2 separate regions of the Homo sapiens genome follow, and region 2 is linked to region 1. A link means that fine-mapping ties the variant in region 1 to the expression of a gene that starts in the linked region. Tissue or cell type: esophagus muscle. Region 1 holds a variant in brackets; the other region holds the start of a gene. All regions are shown on one strand. Distances are between the middles of the regions.

Evidence for each region. PIP is the estimated chance that this variant, and not a neighbour inherited with it, causes the effect.
Region 2: CNGA1 starts here. The variant in region 1 is fine-mapped to the expression of CNGA1 in esophagus muscle (GTEx, PIP above 0.99). The same link has a PIP of 0.9 or more in aorta, breast, lung, sigmoid colon, subcutaneous fat and sun-exposed skin.

Annotation. Positions count from the first base shown.
Region 1 is chr4:47,945,070-47,953,333 of GRCh38, reverse strand. It overlaps CNGA1 (cyclic nucleotide gated channel subunit alpha 1), which reads left to right. Exons shown (of 11, transcript NM_001379270.1): 4 at 631-751; 5 at 1,865-1,981; 6 at 3,439-3,501. The coding sequence starts at 645. The region is part of intron 1 of LOC101927157 (a long non-coding RNA gene); the gene reads right to left. Among named protein-coding and RNA genes, the nearest start is that of NFXL1, 35 kb to the right of the region's middle. The variant G/A (reference allele first, on the strand shown) is at 5,036.
Region 2 is chr4:48,012,796-48,020,795 of GRCh38, reverse strand. It overlaps CNGA1 (cyclic nucleotide gated channel subunit alpha 1), which reads left to right and starts at 4,115. Exons shown (of 11, transcript NM_001379270.1): 1 at 4,115-4,313. It overlaps NIPAL1 (NIPA like domain containing 1), which reads right to left and starts at 4,024. Exons shown (of 6, transcript NM_207330.3): 1 at 3,911-4,024. The coding sequence starts at 3,956. RefSeq lists silencers at 3,389-3,548, 3,839-4,168 and an enhancer at 3,933-4,434.

The sequences.
Region 1 (8,264 bases):
CAAAACTGGGATAAATCCAAATTTATAAATGTTTTATAAGTCTGGTACATTCTTAAATTAAAAATTTTTTTACAAAAAACTGGTCAATGGAAATTAGGGGAACAGGCCATGCCTGCATTCTATTAAAGAATAATTCCTATGTAAAACTGCAAACAGATGGTATTATATAGTCTTAGAAAAATGGTAGGGTTGATATGGTTTGGCTGTGTACCCACCCAAACTTCATCTTAAAGTGCGGCTCCCATAATCCCTATGTGTCATGGGAGGAACTCAGTGGGAGGCAGTGGAATCATGGGAGTGAGTTTTTCCCATGCTAGTCTCATGATAGTGAATAAGTCTCATGAGATCTGATGGTTTTATAAAGGGGAGTTCTGCTGCACAAGCTCTCTTGCCTGCTGCCATGTAAGATGTGTCTTTGCTTCTCCTTTGCTTTCTGCCATGATTGTGAGGCTCCCCCTAGCCATGTGGAGCTACAAGTCCATTAAACCTCTTTCCTTTATAAATTACCCAGTCTCAGGTATGTCTTTATTAGCAGCATGAGGACAGACTAATACATAGGGTGAAACTTTTGATTATATATGTAAATATATAAAAATAGCCTTTCCACTAATAAGACTTCTTTCTCCTCAGATATGAAACTATCCATGAAGAACAATATTATCAATACACAGCAGTCTTTTGTAACCATGCCCAATGTGATTGTACCAGATATTGAAAAGGAAATACGAAGGATGGAAAATGGAGCATGCAGGTAAATCCAAACATTTTCCCATGCATTTTTATTATTAGCTACAGTTCTTTAATTTAACTAGATTTAATTTCAATTTAGCTTTATAATTTGTAACCTTGAACTTTGTAATGTATTTAGCAAATTTATTTACACTTTGGAACTGCATAACTTGTCTAACAAATGAACATAGATTTTATTTATTTATTTATTTATTTATTTATTTATTTATTTATTTTGAGATGGAGTCTCACTCTGTTGCACAGGCTGGAACGCAGTGGCACAATCTCAGCTCACTGCAACCTCTGCCTTCTGGGTTCAAGTGATTCTCTTGCCTCAGCCTCCCAGGTAGCTGGGACTACATGTGTGCACCACCACACCAGGCTAATTTTTTTTTTGTATTTTTAGTAGAGACAGGGTTTTGCCATATTGGCCAGGCTGGTCACGAACTCCTGACCTCAAGTGATCTGCCTGCCTCGGCCTCCCAAAGTGTTGGGATTACAGGCATGAGCCACCATGCCCAGCCTGAACATAGATATTATTGTGGTCACTTTTTTGGAAGCATCTATTAAGCACCTATGCCAAACATTTCTTTAGTCAATGGCAGGGCTTTTCCTCAAGTGACATTTTGAATCTAAAGAGATGACATTGCCATAGATACATATGAAAAGTACTCAGAGTATGAAATGCTAGCAATGTGATTTAAAAGTATAATTTAAAGTGCTTACCCTATAAATGAATATAATGTATATGAATGTGGTTGAATTTACTTTTAGTGGGACGAAACATTAGTTAGAAAACTAGTTCACACAAAGGTATAATATGATCTAAGTCCCAGATATCACACTTGCTATTTGATAAATATTAACATCAACCAATGCATCAAACAATAGGAATGTGGAAAACCTAGAAACTAGTTTCTTAGTTAAATGCATTTTACTGAATTATGCACATATTTTATATAATTCTATGTATTTTGTATAGTTCTAACTTTATGCTAACTAAAAATTGTTATGTGTGTTAGTTTGAGAGGGAAGGAAAAGAGGTGAGGCAATTGTCCCCCTAGTGAGGAATGTTGCCTCTCTGCAGTGGTTGAAAACATTAACTCTTCTCTCTCTGCCTCCTATTGGACTGTAGCTCCTTTTCTGAGGATGATGACAGTGCCTCTACATCTGAAGAATCAGAGAATGAAAACCCTCATGCAAGGGGTTCCTTTAGTTATAAGTCACTCAGAAAGGGAGGACCATCACAGAGGTGAGCAGTATGATCCATCCCTTGGTGCTTGTTTTTAACCATTTATGCTTAAGGTTGCAGTGTTTTGAATTTTTGCAATCAGATCATGGTGATGACCTTGAGCAGTAGGATAGAAATAACTCCCACATGCTTAGCGTTCCAATAATCAAACACTAGGCATAAATGGGTTTGTAAACTGTTGTTTCGGAGCAAGCTCGGCAAATGCCTCTGCTATCTACACACAATGTGGGATCTCAGGAGGAATTACTTCTGTTCCTTACCCATGCCGTCTCTTGGGAAATATTGCCACTGCCCGATGATTATTTATGGCCATGGCGTTCCAAGTTGTAAACACTCTTGCTTCATTTTCCCTGAGACCCACTGGGGTCTGTCCCTTAAGAAACCCAGTCCTTTCTGATTTCTTGTTTCTCTCTGATCCTTCTTTCAGGGTCCTGAAGCAAGTACATGTGAGAGGGTTGGCTGTTATTCTCTAAAATGCTCCATCCCTTTTGGTCCTACTTTTAGGAAATAGAGCACTGGAGAGAGGTGCTAGAAGAGAAAAGCAAAAATATCCTTAGTAGGAAATAAAGAAGTTGTGAAAACTTCAGATACCGGACTTGAGATTGCAGAAGGGGTGTGGTGTGGTATTGGTGTTGGAGCTGGGGTTTCCACCTGTTTTACATAATTACTCTTTCTTTACTTTTTTTTCCTTTTTCTTATTTTTCTTCCCATTGACTACCTCCAGCCTTCCCATTGTTTTTATTTAGCTTTTCTCCTCATCTTACTTTCCCTAACAGTCTTAGGTTTCTTGTTGGGAGTTACTGGCATTGAGGTTGGTTCACTTAAGCTAATTCTTGGTATGAACATTGACTGATATGCATTTACTAACCATGTCCATTTTCATAATGTTATGAAGAAATACCCGAGACTGGTTAATTTATAAAGAAAAAGAGGCTTACTGGACTCACAGTTCCACATGGCTGGGGAGGCCTCACAATCATGGCAGAAGGCAAAGGAGGAGCAAAGTCATGTCTTACATGGTGGCAGGCAAGAGAGCATGTGCAGGGGAACTGCCCTTTATAAAACCATCAGATCTTGTGAGACTTATTTACTAGCACGAGAATGGCATGGGCAACACCCACCCCTATGATTCAATTACTTCCCACTGGGTCCCTCCCGTGGCATGTGGGGATTATGGGAGCTATAATTCAAGATGAGATTTGGGTGGGGACACAGCCAAACCATATCACTATGTTTGTTCAAGACACTGGCATTTGGCAAGTCATGCTTCATGGAGGCTCAGGATATACTTTTATGCTTTATGCTTCATAATATGTTTTTGAAATATCTATCATCTACATAGTCTTTAGTAATGAGTAGAAATGGAGAAGAATTTGTTTTTTCAGACCATTTGCCTACCATGGACATTATACAGATGGTGACTACTGTGATTTCACTGCATGTTTTTCATTTCCCAGGGAGCAGTACCTGCCTGGTGCCATTGCACTTTTTAATGTGAACAACAGCAGCAATAAGGACCAGTAAGTATATTTACAATAGAAAACCAAAGTTTTGGTTTTAAAGAAAACCAGTAAAAATGTAGGAATATATCTGAATCTGTTATAGAGGAAACATTTATTAATCAAATGATCTAATACAATGGCAATGATAGTCTTATCATTTTGTTGAAAAGTAGTGTTCATTCATTTATTTGAATACATGTAGAAAAAATCATGTCTATAGTGTTCATGCAGTTGACTTTCTCTGTGAATAGAGTGACTGACAAAAATAAGTGAATTTTTGTCAGGAAATATTACTCCTTTCCAGTTTGAGCCAATGTGTCTTAGGTGAATTTCCTCAGGAGACAGTTTCTGAGATGGAGGCTTGTATGCAGAAGTTTGTTGGGAATGGTCTTGGGAACAATATCTGGAAGGGAGTTGGGGGTCAGTATTGGGCAGAGGGAGAAGTCGAACTTCAGAGAATAGAGCTGATGTACAATGTGATTCTCTGGGGATCCCTGGAGCAGGGATGACCTTTTAGAGTTGTCCCTATTTAGGTAATAGACTTGGGCCTTTGTTCCCATGCACAGTTATTGGAAAAAAGTTGGCCCTAGAAGATGGAGCATAACCATCTGGATGGAGCATGGTGGTTTCCTTCAGCCAAGGCCAGCCAAGGGAGAGGAAAAACTGAGCTGACAGCAACCAACACTCTTGGCAAGTGGGGAATGAGTGCCTGAATTTTGTGCACCACCTGCATAGCCACTGTATGGCCCAACCGTGTGCTGCCCAGATCCATTTTGTTTATATAGAAAATTCACCCCATGTGGGAATACCTACTCCAGGATCCTGGTTATTTTTTCCTGAGAAAGCTTATAAGAGTAAAGTTAATGGGATTAAACTAAGGTCTCTGGCAGTTGCAGGTGGTTTTGAGGCCTCAAATGAAATTCTTCACCCTCTCCGCTTCTACTCATTCTAGGGTCCTCTCACCCTTAGCCAGCACATCTGCTGGTCTAGATGACTTAGCTGGTGGAACAGTACAGACACTCATCCCTGAAGAACTTGAGCCCTGGGTCACCATGCCCTTCTTGAGTCATGGCTACAGTACTTGCCCATTTACCACCAAAACTGGGCTGGAAAATACCAAAAGACCACCTAGGTGCAAATACATCTCCCCTCCCTGCATTGTATACAGCACTGCCTACTTCTGATGATCACGGTCAATAACTTTTGCCAGTGTGGTGACTCTCTTCCTTGCCTGTTGGGCATGAGGGGACCAAAGTGGCTGGGGAGTAGCCGTAGCTTAATGTTTAATGGAACTCTGGCATTCCCTGGCAGATGCATCACCCCTCTGGAAGCCAGGACCTCTAGATCCATAGATCCTTAAGTTGCAAGAATGGGAAACATACCTTTCCTACATTTGTCACCCCTACTTAGACCCCATAGTTCCCAGACCAATGCATTCTATACAGGCATAGAGAACCATACAATGATCATTGTTTTAGCATATATACAGTATCCTAGAGGATGGCACCTTTTCTTCCTAGAGTATAAACTCTATGATAGCACTTCAGCTGTG[G/A]TTTCAAAAAGTCCCTCCTTAACTATCATGTCAGTAGCTGACAAAGGTGTGCAGCTTATGATAGGACCACTGGATCCCAAACTCAGGTTCCAATGCCACATTTTTTTTTTTTTGCCTTAAAGTGGGTCCTTGGTCCAAAGTGATGTTAAGCAATATTTCATATATAGTGATCATGCTTCATATGCCCCTAAATAATGGCACTGGTCAAAGCCCTGTGGCAAAAAAGCAAATGAATAGTCATAATATATGTCAGTTCTTATCAATATATTTGATGCCCCTTCCATGGTGTCAGGAGTCCAATTTAGTTAACTTGCCATCAAGTGACTGATTACTTTCCTCAGGAGAAAGCACTGTTTTGGAGTCATAGCATTGGTCTCTGTAACAGGCATGTTCACTACGAGCAAAAAACAGACAAATAAAAACAAAGATTTTCAAACTTTGTGCTCACACTCATAATATGTCCATTCAGTCTGCCTCTTCTGAAATATTTTCCCTGATCTTTCCATCGTTTTCCATCCAGGTCCCTGACCAACCAGTCAAGGCATTTGTGACTGCCCACGAGTCCTTTTACACATGTATATTCTTAATTTGGGCTATTTCTTTTTCCCTTTTTTTTTCTTTTCTTTTTTGAGACAGGTACTCACTCAGTTGCCTGTGCTGGAGCGCAGTGGTGCAATCTTGGCTCACTGCAGCCTCCATCTCCCGGGATCAAATGATCCTCCTGCCTCAGCCTCCCAAGTAGCTGGGATTACAGGCGTGAGCCACCACGCCTGGCTAATTTTTGTATTTTTAGTGGGGTTTCGCCATGTTGGCCAGGCTGGTCTCTAACTCCTTGGCCTCACGTGATCCTCCCACCTCAGCGTCCTAAAGTGCTGGGATTACAGGCTTGAGCCATCGGACCCAGTCTGGGCTATTTCTTTTTCCATACAAACTAGATGACTGTATACTGCTTGAAGCTGTGCCATTGGGGAAATTAACCTCACACTTTCAAGACCACCTCTAAGTGAGGCTGTGGTGCAGACACAGACCATTTTGGCTTGCATCCACATTCTAAACTGACCCATCTATGCAACATGCTGTATCAGCTCCTTCTAAAGAACCCCACATATGACCACAGGTGGGGGCTGATAAATAGGTGCTGAGTGGAAAATGACATAGTGGAAAATAAATGGAAATTTCCAACGTGGAAATGACATAAAGAAGGGTACTGAAGGCCGGGCATGGTGGCTCACACCTGTAATCCCAGCACTTTGGGAGGCCGAGGCAGGCAGACCACCTAAGGTCAGGAATCGAGACCAGCCTGGCCAACCTACATGGTGAAACCTCATTTCTACTAAAAATACAAAAATTAACCAGGTGTGGTGGTGCACGCCTTTAGTCCCAGCTACTTGGGAGGCTGAGGCAGGGGAATCACTTGAACTGGGAGGCAGAGGTTGCAGTGAGCCGAGATTGTGCCACCGCACTCCTGCCTGGGTGACAGAGCAAGACTCCTCAAAAAAAGAAAGAAAGAAAGAAAGAAAGAAAGAAAAAGACGAAGGGTACTGAGCCACCTGCCTGGGCAGCTTACTTATTTGCTCTGATTCATGCTCAATCCCAGATATCTTACTTCATCATATGACGGATTGATACATTATGAATTGTTGTTTCTGACAGAATCCATCTCATAATGGGCATTCTTTTTATGTCCCATGGTTAGGTAATCCTATTTCAGGGCCTGACTAACAGAATGCCATTGATGCAGATATAGTGGACTAATGTGGTGCTCTGAGAAATGTCCACGTGATCCAGGTCCCTCAAGGCTGTCATGACAGTAGGAAAGAAAGTTAATATAGCCTTGGAAAAGAGTGTAGGTGTGTACAGTTTGTTATCCCCTGTGAGTATGAGCTATGTCTGATCCTCTTTCCTGATAGTAATGAAAAATGACATTCACAATGACTGACCCAGAACCTTAGGTATGCAGTGTATATCAAGTGAATGCATTGTTTTCCACATATGACACAGCAGCTGCAATTGGGGCTACTACTTGGTTGATTTTGCAATTGTCTATTGCTATCCATTAGGATCCATTTGGTTTTTGCAGGGGTCTGATGATGAATTATGTGGGGAAATGAAGAGCGATCACCACCCCTGCATGCATTAGGTCTTTAAGGATGGCATTTCTTTTTCTCCCCAGGATGCAATGTTGCTTTTGGCCAGAAGGTGGGAAGCAGCTTAAGGGCTTCTCCTCGGTCTTACACCTCTTTCCTCACAAGCCAAGGAACTAGTGGGGTAGGGGTGGGAGTTGTGCCGATGACCAACTATATACATTTCCCTTTTGTATTCAGGAATTATGTACATTACACTTATACATTTAGGAACTGGAGAAATGATCACAGAGTGGGTCACTGTGTTATTTTCCACATAGGACATGTCAGCTGCAATTGGGGCTACTACTTGGTTGATTTTGCAGTAGTCTCTCTGCCATCCACTAGGATCTATTTGGTTTTTGTGGGAGTCAGATGATAAATTACATGGGGAAATTAAGAGAGACCACCACTCCTCCATGCATGATTTTATACAATTATATACATTTCTCTTTTATATTCAGGAACTTATATACATTCTACTTTTATATTCAAGAATTACATACATTTCACTTTTACATTTAGGAACTGGAGAAATGATCACATAGTAGTGGGTCTGTGGACCCAGTGGGAAACACCATAAGTCATATCTCATCCAGGAATCTATTATTACCAGTCCATCATATGCCCCTCAAGTTTAACAGGGGGCCACGATGATGCTTCAATCCCTAGGTGTCAACATCAACATGGATCCTGTGCCAAACAGTCTTCAATGTATCTAAGTATTCTTTTTTCCCCCAGAGTATAGTGATCTAAGTAATGGTCATAGGTTCTTTAGGAGAAAGACCAGGGAAATCGTTACTGGAATATGTTTGTCATACTGTTGCAGAGTCTTTCTTCATGGGTCTTGGCTTCTCCTCTAGTCATTGGTTTTAGGTCTAAGTACTGGCTTAGGTCTAAGTACTGGCTTAGGTCTGGAACTGTTCAAAGGATTCTGATTTTTTTAAAATTTAAATTGTAATGAATCAATTTATTTTTTGAGATGGGGTCTTGCTATGTTGCCCGGGCTGGTCTTGAACTCCTGGGCTCAAGTGATCCTCCCGCCTCAACCTCCCAAAGTGCTGAGATTATAGCCATAAGCCACCATGCCCTACTAGGATTCTGAT
Region 2 (8,000 bases), 68 kb before region 1:
TTCAGTATTCAGCCCCTTACCTTTCCCAATGTGGGCAAAGGTGCTTCACCTGATGTTGGGCTGGAAGTAAGTTGGTGGCCAATGGGAAGTCAGCAGAAGTGATATGAAGCTAGATTTCAAAGATGCTTATGTGGTTGGGTTTACTCATTTGCATCTCTGTAATTCCCTGAGGAGCTGCTGTCCCTTCAGCCTCTGCACCCAAATGAAGACACATGGAGCAGATCTGAGCTCATCCCACATGAAGGAGCCAAACCCAGGTGGACATTAGCCTGAAGCAGAGACATATAGGTGAGCCCCATCTAGATCAGTCAACCTTCAGCTGACCTAGAAACCTAAGCAAGAATATGTGATATACCTGCCTATTCATATTAGCATGGGAATGACTGAATGAAATCTCTTTATATCTGTTACAATTTATTCTCCAAACGCTAACCAGTGGGAAGTAGGTTATATCACTCCCTGGCTTAATACTCCCTGTCCCCTGTCATGGTTTTTCATCTCAACTTACAACAAAATCTCAACTCCTCACTAACTTTGAACTTTAAAGCTTCTCATGCTCTGAAACTGGCTCGTCTCTGACATCATATTGCATTACTCTCCCTCTCACCCCTCTCTGAAACACTAATCTTCTTTTCCTTCATTCAACAAATATGTATGGTGTACTACCTGTTGGGCATTTTCTAGAATCTGGAGATAGAAAAATGAATACAACAATGGTCCCGCTCTCTTATATTCCAGTGGGGGCAGATAGGATTAACAAACAAATAACTATACGTATGTTAAGAGTGCCATAGCAAGTAGTAAAAGCAGCATCAAGGAATATATTTTTTAAAACAGGATTAAACAAAAGAGCCTCTCTGCTAAGTCTAAAAGCAGAAACCCTGAGGGGTTGAAGAAACTGCAGTCAGCCAGGTTGCCTGGGGTGACAGAAAGGGAGATGGTATGAGATGTGGCTAAAGAGTAGGTGGGAGAAGGATCAGGTGAAATGAACCTTTAGACAAGTAGGTCTGATCTTGTCATTCCTCCTTCCAAAACTCCACAAGGGCTTCCCTTCTCATTCCGAAAAAAATCCAAAATTCCCACTATAGCCTATAAGGCCCTGTGGAATCCTGTCTCCAGCTGCCTAACCTCATTCCCTACTATTGCCTTTTCTTCTGTTCCTTTCATAGAATAAGTTCCTTCTCACCTTAAGCTTTTTAAAAAGCAGCTGTTCCTGAGCCTGTTACAGAGTGCTGGCTGGCATAGCTAGCTTCTTCTGAGTGAGAGGACTAAGCAACTCAGAGAGGCCTTTCCTGCCTTCCCAATCTAAAGGAACCTCTCAGTCACTTTCCATCATATGTTCCCAATCAAATAGACTTCCTCATATGGCTTAATTACAGCTTTATAACAACCTTCATACATATTTGCATTTGTTTCTTTTAAAGATAATTTTGGATTAGAGACTCTTTTGAAGCATCTATAGCTTTAAAAGTCAAAACCAATGTGGGGTGGGGGATGGCTCATGCCTGTAAACCCAGCACTTTGGGATGCCAAGGTAGGAGTATCACTTGAAGTCAGGAGTTCAAGACCAGCCTGGTCAACACAGTGAAACCCGTATTAAAAATACAAAAATTAGCTGGGCATGGTGGCATGTGCCTGTATTCCCAGCTACTTGAGAGGCTGAGGCAGGAGAATTGCTTGAACCCAGGTGGAAGTTGCAGTGAGCTGAAATTGCACCACTGCATGCCATCCTGGGTGACGGAGTGGCACTCCGCCTCAAAAAAACAAAAAAAAGTCAAAACCAAAGTATGAAATTAACTTTTTCTTCATGGAAGTTCAACTGGAATGTTCTATCTTCAGATCTCATGACTGACCCCTTGTCATTTGGGTCTCAGCTTGAATATCACTTTCGTAAGGGGCTTTCATTGAATACCCAATCTAAACATCCCAACACTCTTGATACATTACTGCTATTATAATGATCTTTTAAATTACTTTGTTTCTTGCATAGTAGCTGCCATCTGAACAGTAAGGTGCCTGAGAGCAGGAACCTAGTCCTAGAGTCTGGGACCAGACTGTCTTGCAGATCCCTCTATCCCAGCACCTATGCCAGTGCTTGGCACATGGGACTCTTGTTATTTGAATGAACAAGTGAAAAATTGAGTCTTTGTTTACTCCATGTCAAGCTCTGAGTGGTGTAGTTCATATGTAATCCCACCTGCACCTACTCTTCAGAACTGTAAACTGGAGGGATGACCCCCAATTTATAGACAGGAAAATGCTCAAGGAAGCTAAGTTACAGCTCAGACTGTCTGATGCCAAAGCCTAATCTCTTCCCACTACTAATAACGTGCATTCAGATTTCTAAGTCTTTCTCACCAGCTTTTCACACAATTAATTACCATGGTTAATCACAGGTATTAAGCCTGGAGCTTAAATGTTTCTTGTTGGAACTCAATGCATAAGCAAAGCAGGAAAAACATCCAGAAGCTCAAACAAGTGGGTGTAATTCATATACCTTCCTTACTTACAGATCCTTGGGTAAACAAGTGTGGGTGTGTTAGTAACTGTCAGATTTGCTGGGTTAGAAATTATTTAGAAAAAGGGCACACAACCTGACTCTCTAGGAAATAATTCTAGATTCAGCTGCCTTAAAATTTTTGTTTTTTAATAGTTTGTGAGTTGTTCAGGCGTTATTGCTCTTTTTCAGAAAAAAAGACTAGAAAATAATTCTAGATCCAGCGGCCTTAAAAAATTTTTTTTAATAGCTTGTGAATTGTTCAGGCATTTTTCTCCTTTTTTTGGTGTCCCTTCTCTTCCTTGCTAGCATGGTTTGGACGAGCTCACTTGTTAAAAAGGAATAAGCTGGAAGAGTCAAGAGGAGAGGAAACTAGGGAAGTTGCGAGCACCTTTGCAAAGGTGTATATGTATATACATATATATATATATATATGTGTAAGGGAACTATATATATATGTGTATATATATAGTAGTTCTTACCATGCCTTTCACTGCCTCCCTTCCCCTTTACTGCATTATCAGGTAAATTAAAAAGCTGCTTTCCCCTTGGTACGGCGAAAACCATCATTTCAATGTATCTACATCCTTCCAGTCGCTCCCCCTACCCCCTTCCCTACTTTTATCGGGGCCTTCTGTATGGAGACTGCAGAAAACCCGCCAGTGTTGCGAACACTTGGCGAAGGGCAAGGAGCCTCGCCCAGAGATTTCACGGGGCTCAGGTGAGAAGCAGTAAGAAGAGCCTGCAAACGAGTGCTCCCGGTTCCAGGTTTCCTCTCCAGTACGGCTCTCGCCTTAAGCAGCCAGAGTGACTGCACAGCGAGTCAGACAGGCTCATGGGTTTGGAGACCTTTTCATTTCCAAGGAAGAGGAGAGACGTGGGCGGCCCAGACTTGCCCAACGCCCACCCCCGCGGCCCCGGGCGCCCAACCTCTCGCGGTGCTCGATCCCCGGGAGCCAGCGCAGGGCGCAGCGCAGAACTCCCACGGGCCCCCCAGGCAGACACGCCCTCTGCCCACCGGGTGACGTCGGCCGCAGACTCTGGAAGGGAGCCTGAGTCAGAGGAAACGTCCTTCTCAGAGGGACTCGGGATTCTTCCCATAGCATCCTGAGTTTCCCCGTCCCACACGCAGCACGCGGTAATTTACACTGGTCGGCCTCGCGAATCGAGTGGGAGTCCCACCTGCCTTATTCCACTCAGGTTTTCCAGCACAGCCCGAATCGCCTAGGCACCCATAAATAAGTGTTGAACGCCTGGCTGGACGGCCGACTGACTGAATGAATGAATGAGTGAACGACTACGTTTAGAGTCGGTACAGCCCCCCTTTCCAGTCTCCGCAAGTGTCCGGGGACCGCCCACCCGGTCTCTTCGCCACCCAGCTGCCAGGTCCCTCGGCTCAGGGCAGACACAAACCTTCTCGGCAGGGCTCTCCGGGCGGCAGCCTCACCTGTGCCCCCATGGCCCCGGGAGCGGGCTTCCGGAACGCGGGCGCTTGCTCCTCACCTGGGCCTCTCCACACGCACCCGCGGCGGGCGGGGCTGCGGGGTCTGGGAATGGGGCGCCCTGACCCCGCCCCCGGGGCAGCCTCCGCCAATGGGCATGGCCAGGCGGGGCCTCAGCGCCAGCCGAGCCCTGCTGCCCGGGGCTTGTTGCGAATTCTCAGGGCCCCCGCAGGCCTGGGAGCGGCCTGTGATAACTGGTGTATCTGGCAGGAGTAGCAGCTGCCCCTTGGCGCGACTGCTGGAGCCGCGAACTAGAGAAACACAGACACGCCTCATAGAGCAACAGCGTCTCTCGGAGCGTGGAGCCCGCCAAGGTAACTCCGGGAATTGAGTGGAGTGGAGGCTGCACTGAGGCCCCCTTCTGGCTCCTCTCTGGTCGAAAAGGCTCCCCCGCTAGAGAGAGCCCTGCTGCTTTTGGAAGCCTTCAGGTGTTAGTTGCTTTGCACCGAAGCTGCTGACTGCTGGGGTTCTGCGCCGATTGCCAGGCTCAAGTTTATTTTGGGGGCTGCTGAGCAGACTTTGCCCTTCTGTGCTGTTATCAGCTTCTGTCGCTGTCCGTCCACGCCCGCTATATCCATCCACTCTCCGTTCTGTCTCCAGCAGGCAACTCCCCCTACCCTGCCCCATTTTCTGGGTCATAGGGGTATTTGAAATAAACCTTTAAGGGAAAAGCAATGCCAAAACTGGAAAGACTTATTTCCACGAATTATTAATAACTAATGTTTATGATATCCTTGTTATACCATACATATGCAGGCACATTATGTATTAATTAAATCTCACAGCAGTCTATTAACGCTCAGTTTACAGATGAGGGATTAGAGGCAAAGAGTGAGGTTAAGTAACCAAACCAAGGTTGGAAGACCTGATAGCAGGTATTTACAAAACAAGGAGTGGGCAGGGCTGGCGGGTGGCTCACCCCTGTAATCACAGCACTTTGGGAGGTTGAGGCGAGTGGCTCTCTTGAGTCCACAAGTTCGAGACTAGCCTGGGCATCATGGTGAAACCCTGTCTCTACAAAAATTAGCCAGATGTGGTGGTGTACTCCTGTAGTCTCAGCTACTCAGGAGGCTGAGGTGGGAGGACGGATGACTTGAGCCCAGGAGGTGGAGGCTACAGTGAGACATGATCGAACCACTGCACTCTAGTCCAGGCAACAGAGTGAGACCCTGTCTCAAGAAAAAAAAAGGTGAGGGGTGGGGTAGTGAACAATTCGGGCTCAAACCCTCACCAGGGAGAACTGGGGTGCCTTTGTGCTCTGGCATTTTAACACTGAGGAAAATATTCTCATGTACTCAGGTAGCCTTTGTTCTAAGTAGGCATGAACAGTGCTATTAATTTTATTACCTAAGAGTTTCATAGCAGAGGCCTCAATCTTGTTTTTCTTGTTCTTAGGCGGATGAGAGAAGAGCTAAGAACAAATTAGTCAACATACCAGTCCAAGGCACCCACTTTTATAATACATATGGATGACTTTGCAGAGAAGGAACACCACGGAGAGTGGAATAGGTGAAAGTTGAAAGCGAGGGAGATTTATGCCAATTTTCCATAACAAGCCTTAAAACTTAGACTTCTTTTTGTTTGCTTGTTTGTTTGTTTGGCTTGGTTTGGTTTTTTTTGAGACGGAGTCTCGCTCTGTCGCCCAGGCTGGAGTGCAGTGGCGCGATCTCGGCTCACTGCAAGCTCCGCCTCCTGGGTTCACGCCATTCTCCTGCCTCAGCCTCCCGAGTAGCTGGGACTACAGGCGCCCCCCACCACGCCCGGCTAATTTTTTGTATTTTTTTTTTTAGTAGAGATGGGGTTTCACCGTGTTAACCAGCATGCTCTCAATCTCCTGACCTCGTGATCCGCCTACCTCGGCCTCCCAAAGGGCTGGGATTACAGGCGTGAGCCACCTAGCCCGGCCCAAAACTTAGACTTCTATTTAAACGTTTTCTTTGGATTTCCAACTTAAAATTTTGTCTTTATCAAAAATTAGTAATGATGGTAAACGTGATCTATGGTGCTTATTTTTTATTTAACAAACACTTGGATAGCATTTACTATGTGGCAAGCACTATTCTAATCTCTTTGTAAATATTTGCTTTATAAATCTTCATGAAAATCCTGTAAGGTAGATACTACTACCCCCACTTTACAGCTGAGGAAATGGAGGCACACAAAGATTGAGTAACTGGCCTATGCACACATAACCAGTAAGTGTGGAACCAAGATGCTAACCAAGAAAGCTGGGCTTCAAGTATGTGCTCTTAACCCATTTGGTAATTGGACATTAAAAAACAAAACAGACTTTAAAAAATGTATCTTTATTGAATTTCAGTTGCATATTAAGGTCTACTTTAGGTAAGAGGCATTTTGTTGTAGTTCTTGCTTTTCAATTCTGAAAATAAAGAGAAAAAATTCAGAAAAAAAATATTTAAACTCATTTAAGACCACTGCTTTTCCAGTTTAAATGTTGCCTAGCAGAAATTTATAATATGTATTTTCCTTCATTGATAATTTCTAGATGACTTTGGGGAATACCGTTATAGTACCACACACTGTCTTTAATGACATAAAGTTGGGGGATATTTATTCCCCCGCAAAATCATGTTGTTTGTTTAACTAAAAGAAGAGCATTAAAAAAATCTCCAACTAGCCCATTCTTTGATTCTAGGAAAATTACTCTTCTGACTCAAAAATTAGAATGCGATAATAACTGAGACCCTCTAAAATGCCAACTTCTGTTTTATTGGTCTTTGTGCTAGGACACTTAGACCCAGGGGTGATGGTCAAAATAAATAATGATTAGTAGAGCCTTAGGGCCTCAAGGGACAAGGCCACAGGTCTTTCGAGCTTGGGGAGGTCTGGGAGGGTTCCTGGTGTGTCAAGGTTAACCCCTGAGTTGCTACATTGTAGGGAGGTCTGTGGTTTCTGGGGCAAGGAATAAGATGACTAGACAAGAGGGGTGGTAGCTGGGGAGTAGAAACCACCTTTGCAAAAATTATATCACTGAGAAAATTTTAACAGTAAGCTGAGTAATTCATCCTCCATCTTGCCTTTCCCTTAATTATTCCTGGGTTATTGAGTTGTGAAAGAAAATCAATAGTGGAGCCCCCAAATCACTAAGCTAAAGGGAAAAGTGAAGCTTGGAACTGCTTAGGGCCAACCTGCCTCCCATTCTATTCAAACTCACACCTCTGCTCACTGACATATCTGATCGCCTCCTTTGGAGAGGCTAGTCAGAAACTCAAAATAATGCAACCATTTGTCTCTTATCTACCTATGACCTGGAAAGCCCCGTCCCTGGTTCCAGTATTCCTGCCTTTGCTTTGAGTTGTCCCGTCTTTCCAGACAGAACCAATGTTCATCTTGCATATGTTGATTGATGTCTCATGTGTCCCTAGAATGTATAAAACCCAACTGTGCTCTGACCACCTTGGGCACATGTCATCAGGACCTCCTGAGGCTGTGTCATGGGGTTGTGTTATCAACCTTGGCAAAATAAACTGTAAATTCACTGAGACCTGTCTCAAATTTTTGGGGTTCACATTTTGGTAACCACAGAGGGATTCTGAGTGGAGATGCCCCTGACCTTTGGCAAACCTCTTATCAGTGCTTGGTACCAGCATGAGCTAATTTTACAGCTCAAACCAATAGGACAATTTGCTGAGGTCTGAGAGCACCCCCTCCAGAGAATCCCTGATTTCCCCAAATTTGGTCAAGATCTAAAGTTTATTTTGCTGTACAACTTCTCTTTTTTGGAGTTTTACTTGCTTCTATCAAGAAAGACAAATTTTCTGTTTCCATGACGTTGGAGTTTGGCTCACTTCCAACAGGGAAAAGGAGTGTTTTTTTTTTTGTTTTGTTTTGTTTTTCCTGCTTCTTGAATGGTAGAGAGCAGTCTATAGCCAGAGACTCGTCCCTAGGTAAGTAACTGAATTGGGGTTTGTCTTGGTTAAAGTTAAGATTAACGACCAACTGGTCTTAATTTCTCCTTACCATTAGAGCACTCAGTTATC